Linked DNA regions of Homo sapiens: region 1 is linked to region 2. The links come from fine-mapping of genetic effects on gene expression. A gene starts in region 2. The other region holds a variant in brackets. All regions are shown on one strand. Distances are between the middles of the regions. Region 1 overlaps MLXIP (MLX interacting protein). Region 2 holds the start of MLXIP (MLX interacting protein).

Region 1 (4,384 bases), 38 kb before region 2:
ACAGACATGTAGGAGAGGAGGGAGGAGAAAAGACAGCCAAGATGGATACATAAGAAAAGGTAAGAGTGCCACAGCGATTTCCCTTTGCAGAGATGAGCTGGAGAAGCAAGGGGTCCAGTGAGAAGGAGTGTTCACTGAACACCGTTTTGTATTGTTGAAATATAACACTGGAATGTACGGCATTCCTCCCTTTTCTGCGGTATTGTGCTTTACCCATGATCAACCGCTGTCTGAAAATATTACATGGAAAGTTGCAGAAATAAACAATCTATAAATCCTAAACCGTGCACCATTTGGAATAGCAAAATCTCACGCCGTACCGCTCTGTCCCGCCTGGGACATGACTCATCCCTTTGTCCAGCAGATCCACACTGTAGTTGCCACCCACCTGCTAAGTCACTTAGCAGCCATCTCAGTGATCAGATCCATGGTTGTGGTATCACAGTGCTTATGTTCAGGTAGCCCTTATTTTACTTAATAATGGCCACAAAGCATAAGAGTAGTGATGCTGGCAATTCAGATATGACCTAGAGAAGCCTTAAAGTGCTTTCATTAAGTGAAAAGGTGCAAGTTCTCAACTTAACAAGGCTGAGGTTGCTAAGATCTATGGTAAAAACAGATTTTCTATCCATGCAATTGTGAATAGTAGATTGTCATAATTGCTCTATGTTATTATTGTTGTTAATCTCTTACTGTGCCTAACTTATAAATTAAGCTTTATCACAAGTATAGAGCTAACATGTGAAAAAAATGTACTGTATACAGGGTTCGGCACTATCTGAGCTTTCAGGCATCCACTGGGGTCTTAGAACACACCCCCTCAGATAAGGGGGGACTACTGTATTACTTTTTCAAAATAAACAAGGAAAAAAGACCAGGCAAGGTCCAAGACATTCTAGGGCTTCTAGTTAATTGCGGAAGGCAATTCATCACAAAAACAGATATATCAGTCAATTCTGTGCACCAGATCCAGATATGAGGATCACGGTTATTAGGTGGTTTCAATGAGGGAGTGGAGGAATGACTCTTCCAGGAGTCCAATTCACTTGCTTCAAAAGGGCAGTCTCTATCGGCTAGTCCTGGGATGTGGGCCTGGTCCCACAGGCTGCCAGCAGCCAAAGCTAACAGGCTACAGACGAACAAAGGTTCATTGAGGAGCTGGCACGCGGGAGGGGCCACTGCCAATGGCTTGACAGGAGGGGCAGTGTGCATGTCGGGCCACCTGCCCGAGCAGAGAGTCTCCTATGGAGGAACCCCAGGGGGTTTCAGGTCCTGCTCCATCCTCCTCGTGGATCTCTTGGCATCTTTTTTCTTACATTCAAAGAACATCCTGTTGGAGAAGTAGGATCCGAGGGCTGTGGCGGGAAGGCTGGTGCACACTCCAGTGTGCGAGTGTTCGAGTGCCTGCAGGTGCTCCGCCCACATGCGTGCCAGCTTGTTTGTGAGGGTGTATGTTTGTCTTTTCTGTGTGAAAAGCAGGGAGTAATCATTTCCATGACCACCCAAAAATAGGGCAACTTGAGGGAGTGGATACCAGGCAAGATGTGCCTGCCTGCAATGGTGACTTCACCCTGCCTGGGATGGGCTGTGTCCAGGCCTTCCACTAGAGGACAGACACCACCATGTCTAGACCACTTCTAACCAACAAAGAAAGCAGAGTGGTTCCATTTCTGGCCTCGTCACCCAGGCTGGCCCGGCCCAGCCCACCTTCTGCAAAACAGTGACCACATCCACCACACTGGACAGCTGGGTCAGCCATAGCAGATATGAGGGCCTGGGCCCAGCACGTGGTCAATGCTGGGCATGGTGAGGCATGCTCCTGAGTTTTAGGAGCTTCTTGGGCATGTTCTTAAGTTTCCTGTCAGATTCAAGCCATAAGTGGACTTTCAGGCAGGGGCAGGGGCAGGGACCCCTGGGCAGGGCACCATTTAAAGCCAGAGTCCTAGGTTTCCTCGCCAGAAGAGTAAACCCCAATCAGACCCCAAGGTGCTCCTCCGGACTGGAGATGAAACCAGATTTGCAAGAGGCAAACTTGGTATTTCACTTCAATTTGCATCATTTGTTAATGAAATTTCATAATTAAAAACCTGCGCGTTAGCCATGTGCCCCATATTTTCTGAGCTGTTTGCCCATGCCCTTTGCCTTTTCTAAAAACCAACATGGCACATGTATACATATGTAACAAACCTGCACGTTGTGCACATGTACCCTAAAACTTAAAGTATAATAATAATAAAATTAAAAAAAAACTTATTCTGAAGTAATTATAGACTCTCAGGAAGTCACACAAATGGAACAAAGAGCTCCACGTACCCTTCACCCAGCTTTCCCCAGTGGTGGCTCTTGTATCGCTGGAGCACAATGTCAAAGCCGGGAAATTGGCTTTGGGACATTACTGGTAAACAGACTACACGTCATTTACAGTCATTGAAATGTCAATGTTGTGTGTGTGTGTGTGTGTGTGTGTGTGTGTGTGTTTTCAGATGGAGTCTCGCTCTGTCACCCAGGCTG[G/T]ATTGCAGCAGCATGATCTTGGCTCACTGCAACCTCCACCTCCCGGGTTCAAGTGATTCTCCTGCCTCAGCCTCCCAAGTAGCTGGGATTACAGGTACTGCCATCATGCCTGGCTAATTTTTGTGTTTTTGTAGAGACAGGGTTTTGCCATGTTGGCCAGGCTGGTCTTGAACTCCTGACCTCAGGTGATCTGCCCACCTCAGCCTCCCGAAGTACTGGGATTACAGCTGTGCCCAGGTGTCAGCCATTGTTTCCCTTGCTATTTTATATTCGCAATATTATAATATTAGTGGTACTAATGCTTTGTGATGTTTCTGCAAATGTTTCCCCTAGGATTTTCATTGTCTTTTACTTGTTTTTATGGCATGTCTTTTGAATGTAGGTTACATATTTGTGTAGTCATCTCTACTGGTCTTTTTTTTTTTTTTTTTGAGAAGGAGTTTCGCTCTTGTTGCCCAGGCTGGAGTGCAATGGTGCGATCTTCACTCACTGCAACCTCTGCCTCCCAGGTTCAAGCAGTTCTCCTCCTCAGCCTCCTGAGTAGTTGGGATGACAGGTGCCCGCTACCATGCCCAGCTAATTTTTTGTATTTTTAGTAGAGACGGGGTTTCACCATGTTAGCCAGGGTGGTCTTGAACTCCCGACCTCAGGTGATCCACCTGCCTCGGCCTCCCAAAGTGCTGGGATTATAGGCGTGAGACACCGCGCCCAGCCACTACTGGTTTTTCTTTAGAATTTCTTGTACTGCTTCCCTGCCTGCCCTCCCACCCGTTCAGAGATTTAGTTTTCACTTTTATCTTTTAAGCTTTTGTAGTTTTATTGATTAAAATATATATCTATCCATAATAAAAGAAAATTCAAACAAAAAGGAAAAGTGCAAAGAACAAAAGCAAACTCACCTTCAATTCCGCCACCTAGAAATAACCTGTTACATTTTGGTGATAATATTGTGTAGCAAAGAAGTAGTCTTCCTGGCTGGGTGCGGTGGCTCACGATTGTAATCCCAGCACTTTGGGAGGCTGAGGCAGGTGGATCATTTGAGGTCAGGAGTTCAAGACCAGCCTGGCCAACATGATGAAACCCCATCTCTACTAAAAATAAAAAAATTAACCGGGCAGTAGTGGCGCATACCTGTAATCCCAGCTACTCAGGAGGCTGAAGCAGGAGAATCGCTTGAACCCGGGAGGTGGGGGTTGAGGTGAGCCGAGATCGTGCCACCGCACTCCAGTCTGGGCAACAGAGTGAGACCCTGTCCCCCCCCACCAAAAAAAAAAAAAAAAAAGAAGTCACCTTCCCAAAGAGAGGTCAAGCCTTTGCCCTGGGCTGCTGGGAGGTGAATTCTAGGCCCCTGGAATTAGAAATTAGTTCTGCCTGATGGGAGTGTCTTTGTTTGCCTGGGGGCTTTGGCCACAGAACAGTTACCAATCTGACTTACAATGGGGGCCTGGAGCACAGGGTATCAGTTCCAACCTCCAGAGGAAAGGCTAACTAAAGGTCTTAGCCAGACATCTGGGCGGGGCTAGAAACTAAAGGTCAACCACAGGGGTAGAATGGATCAAGTCCAGTAAAAACTTGCGTCTTGGCTGATTTTAATTTGAATCCTTTCCTTATAATATACTGCAACCATGAATATAATACTTTTCAGTGCGTTCTGTTTTTCTAGTGAATTATTGAAACTGAGGGTGGTTTTGGGAACTCCCCAACTTGCATTTGGTATTAGAAATGAAGGCAGTCAGCCAGGCGCAGTGGCTCACGCCTGTAATCCCAGCACTTTGGGAGGCTGAGGTGGGTGGATCACCTGAGGTCAGGAGTTTGATAACAGTCTGGCCAACATGATGAAACCCTGTCTACTAAAAATACAAAAATTAGCCGG
Region 2 (4,384 bases):
GGCGCACAGGGCTGCAGCCTCAACACCATTTGTTTTTTAAAAAGCAGAACATCTTTACAGGCTCAGTGCCAGCTCAAACTGGCAAGACCAGAGAATCAGCAGAGACTGACCAATGTGCCGGGTAAGGGGGATGGGAGGAGGAGCTACGGGAACAGATCATCAGGGAAACCTTCAAGAGAGGAAATAGGGGTGTTTCAGGAACATAACAAAGAACAAGTTGACTAATCGTTTATTCCAGGGACCGCGGCGGTGAGGGGGGTGCCATCCAGGGCTAAGTATCTAATATTTTAACTTCAGGTAAAAGCATAACATTTAAACCTGGATATGCTTGGGGCTCACAGCTCTCTTAAAAAGGTGAGGTGAGAGGGGGCAAGATATTCCTGCTCTTTTATTACGCTGTTTATGGAGTCTCCTAGGAAACTTCTCCCGCGATGCCTCCAGAGCAGACCTAAGACAGCCCCCGCTAGTCCAGTTCCTAATGCAATAAGCTTAACTCAGCAGAGATCCCATCATGAGCTTTCTGCAGGGCCAAGCTGCTCAAGGCCGCTGCTGCCAGTCCAAAGAAGTTCTGTTGCGCAGACAAAAAAGTTACCTGCAGCAAATACCTAATATTCATAGTGGGAAAGGGAGAGAGAGTGAAAAAGCGCTTTAATCTTTGAGGGCCAGGCATTTTCTGTGACTTGGAAAAGAGGAATCTCTGCCCAGAGCCGAATCCACATGTCAGAACGGTGTCTGGGATGTCTGCCCTCAACAATGACATCTCCCTCATATAATGTTTCAGGACCGGCCAGAAAACCCTCCAACTTGCCAGAAGGACAGACTGCACCTCCAACAGCTGTGGCACCAAAAGTCTTCTTAGGAGGCACCCAAAGCCCTCCCGAGATGGGGGCGGGCCTCCCGATGAGGTTGTAAGGGGGCCAGCCTCCAGGTGCAGGGACACCTAACTCTGGCCAAGCACTGGAATAAGCAATTTACCTATCTCACTCCATCCCCACAACAGCCCCTTGGAGGCAGACACTACAGTCATTCCCCTTTTATAAAGGAGGAAACAGGCTCCGAGGTGTTACACAACCATTAAACAGCAGAGCCAGCCTCCAGTCACCCCGAACAGGTGGTCCTGACCGCTGCTGGATATGGGGGAAACACACAAAGCGTTTGGAGGAAGGAGTCGATAGAGTCGGGTAACACAAGATGCAGCCAGTGTTTATACCTCTTCCTCGTCCAACATCGGTGGTCCCAGGACACTGGAGGGGAGGGCCTGGATGGGGAACGTGAACCCGAAAGGACCCCGGCACTGCTGGCAGGGGAAGAGGCCAGGACCCCGGCTCCTCTGGCAACGCGGGGAACCCCAGATCCATAAACCCTCCCGAAGGAGGAAGACCCAAAGGGAATGCATGAAGCCACGGGGTTGCCAGGCGGCCCTTCCCTCCACGCTTGTTTTGTCAAACAAGGGCCTCCGGCCGGGGCCTCAGGGGGTCGCGGGGGTCCCTACCTGTAGGCCAAAGTCATGCACTCGAAGAGCTTGGTGAGCGAGGCGTCGATGGACAGGTGGCAGGAGCTAGTCTTGCCGAAGCTGTAGGTCTGGCACGTCTGTTTGTTGACCGTGTCGAAATCGTAGCCCTTCTTGGGCGGGTGCTCTCGGTGCGGCGACGACACCATGAAGTGGCCGCTGTGGATGATCTGCTGGCGGCGCGGAGGTTCCTCGCGGCCCGGCCCGGCCCGAGGCGGCGGTGGCGCGGCGCTCGCGTGGGCCCGGGCCGGGGTGGCCGCGCCGGAGGCGGGCGGCGGGGACGGCTCATCCGTGTCCGAGTCGTCGTCGTCCTCGGACACCTGGGGCTTGAGCAGCACCTGGCGGCCCCGGCTGCGAGGCCGGCGCGGGGAGCACATGAAGACGTCGGCGGCCATGAGAAGGGCTCGGCCGGGGGCATCCCCCGGAGCCCGGGGCAACGCGACAAGCGCGCGAGGCAGAGGGGCGCCGGCCCGGCCCGGCCCGCGCGCCGACTGTCCGCGAGCGCGCGGCGCGGCGGGAGGGGGAGGGCTCCGGCCCCGGCGTGACGTCACCGAGGCGTCTGGGCCAATCGGCTGCCCGCGTCGGCCTCTTAAAGGCGCAGGGGAACCTTTCCTTAGCTAGGCGGACCAAAAAAAAAAAAAAAGGGGAAGCGGAGGCCACGCCTCCCGGCCGTGCCCCTCGCCACCTCCTCCTCTCCCGGCGTCCGTGGGTGCTGAGGGACACGGTGGCCGGGCGGAGCGGCTCGCCGGTGTCGCGACCTGGGAGAGGCGTCGGCAGAGTGGGGCCGTGCTAGTCCCGCCCCCGCCCCGCTCCGCGCCCCGGGAGTCGCCCTGTGGCTTCGCCGCAGGCCCGGCCGGCTCCACGTGGTGGGTGCGGGTGGGGCTCCTCGGCCTCCAGGCCCTGCTTTTTCCCTGCCGGGCGGTACCGAGTCCTCGCAGCTCACGCCTGAGTTTGCCGGACGTGGTGGCTATTGTCCTCATTATTCTCATCGTATTGATGGGAACACTGGGTGGCTGAATACCGACAGGATTTTTCTCAGACCTGGAGTCCACAGAGCTGGGAACTTGCTTCCCCTGCGCGTCCCCAGCTCGGCGCAGCTGTTGAGTGGCAGCGCCCCTGAGCCCAGCGACCTCCAGACCCCAGCTCTTTTAACTTCAACTCAGCATGCTGTTGTTATTTTTTTAAAGTTTGACGGACGAGCCAGCCCCCGAAACAATTCTAAAAGGGGAGTATCTGAGCCAGAGTTTTCTTCTCTGTCAAATGGTGAACAATTCCGTTTCCTCAGAAACTTGGGACAGTTTAAAAATGGCTATAGTGGGGCGCGGTGGCTCATGCCTGTAATCCTAGCACTTTTGGAGGCCGAGGCGGGTGGATCACTTGAGGCCAGAAGTTCAAGACCAGCCAGGCCAACACGGTGAAACCCTGTCTCTACTAAAAATAACAAAAATTAGCCGGTCGTAGTGGTGCACCCCTGTAATCCCAGCTACTCGGGAGGCTGAGGCAGGAGAATCGCTTGAATCCGGGAGGTGGAGGTTGCAGTGAGCCGAGATTGCGCCATTGCACTCTAGCCTGGGCGACAGAGCGAGGCCCTGTCTCAAAAAGAAAAATAAATACAAATAAAAATGGCTATAAGTTGCTTAGCAGGCAGGCTGGCACAAAATGAGCGCTAAATAAATGTGCCACAGGTTGGAGGATTTGGATCAACCAGACCAGAGGTGCCTAGAAATTGCCAATAGTCCACCACTATTTGACCTGCAGAAACGGCAACTTCGCGTGGCACAACCTAACTGACAGACACCTCTAGAAAGCTGTCAAGGTTTCCGGGGCTCAAAGCCAGTCTGGGGTGGGGGTGGCAGGGCATCAGAAGAGCCAGTGAGGCCCATGAGCCAGGAACACCCATCCTAATCCTAGCAGGGCGTCCAGAGTCCACAGCCACTCCTGCACTCTGCTTTGTTTTATTGTTGTTTTGTTTTTTGAGACAGAGTCTTGCTCTGTCACCCAAGGCTGTAGCGCAGTGGTGCAATCACCATGTTGGCCAGGCCGGTCTGGAACTCCTGACCTCAAGTGAGGCCTGCCTTGGACTCCCAAAGTGCTGGGATGACAGGCATGAGCCACCGCGCTGGCTCTGCACTCGGCTTTGAAGCTGGTTTCAGTTCCAGATTTGAGTGGGGGGTGAGTCCCCTGCCCCACCCTCTTCCTGACAAAGGCCTCCTGAAGGGAACAGAGGGCTCTCACCAAAATGGCTCCATTAACTTATTTCCAAATGTCTGTATGGAAAAATGGGCTGGATGACTGGCAGTTTTCAGGCATGAGTTCTAGATTTCCCTCTTCAACCTACTACTGTTCCCAATGCTGGTTACAAGTGTTTAAAAGTCCATCCTTTGAGTTGCCTTCCTTTCTCTCAAGACTTGTCTCCTTGGTCCTTGGTAAGTTTACATGCCCAGCCACTTTTTTTTTTTTTTTTTTTTGAGACAGGATCTGGCTCTTTCACCTGGACTGGAGTGGAGTGGTGCCATCATGGCTCACAGCACCCTCAACCTCCAGGGCTCAGGTGATCCTCCCACCTCAACTTCCCAAGTAGCAGGACCACAGGTGCACACCACCGTGCCCTGCTAATTTTTGTACTTTTTATAGAGATGGGGTCTCGCCATGCTGCCCAGCCTGGTCTCGTCTCGAGTTCCTGACCTCAAGTGATCCTCCTGCCTCAGCCTCCCAAGGTGCTAGAATTACAGGTGTGAGCCACCATGCCCTGCTTTTTTGTCTTTGTGTTTACCTATATTTTCTTTCTTTTTTTTTTTTTTTGAGACAGGGTCTCACTGTGTCACATTGGTGTGATCGTGGCTCACTGTAGCCTCAACCTCCCCTGCCCAAGCT

The links. PIP is the estimated chance that this variant, and not a neighbour inherited with it, causes the effect.
Region 1: its variant is the best candidate, but not a certain one, in a credible set for the expression of MLXIP in tibial nerve (GTEx, PIP 0.85).

What each region holds. Positions count from the first base shown.
Region 1 is chr12:122,114,147-122,118,530 of GRCh38, reverse strand. The region is part of intron 1 of MLXIP (MLX interacting protein); the gene reads right to left. Among named protein-coding and RNA genes, the nearest start is that of MLXIP, 38 kb to the right of the region's middle. The variant G/T (reference allele first, on the strand shown) is at 2,512.
Region 2 is chr12:122,076,375-122,080,758 of GRCh38, reverse strand. MLXIP (MLX interacting protein) reads right to left here and starts at 2,003. Exons shown (of 17, transcript NM_014938.6): 1 at 1,493-2,003. The coding sequence starts at 1,905. RefSeq lists enhancers at 1,421-1,660, 3,728-3,777 and silencers at 1,721-2,170, 2,181-2,460.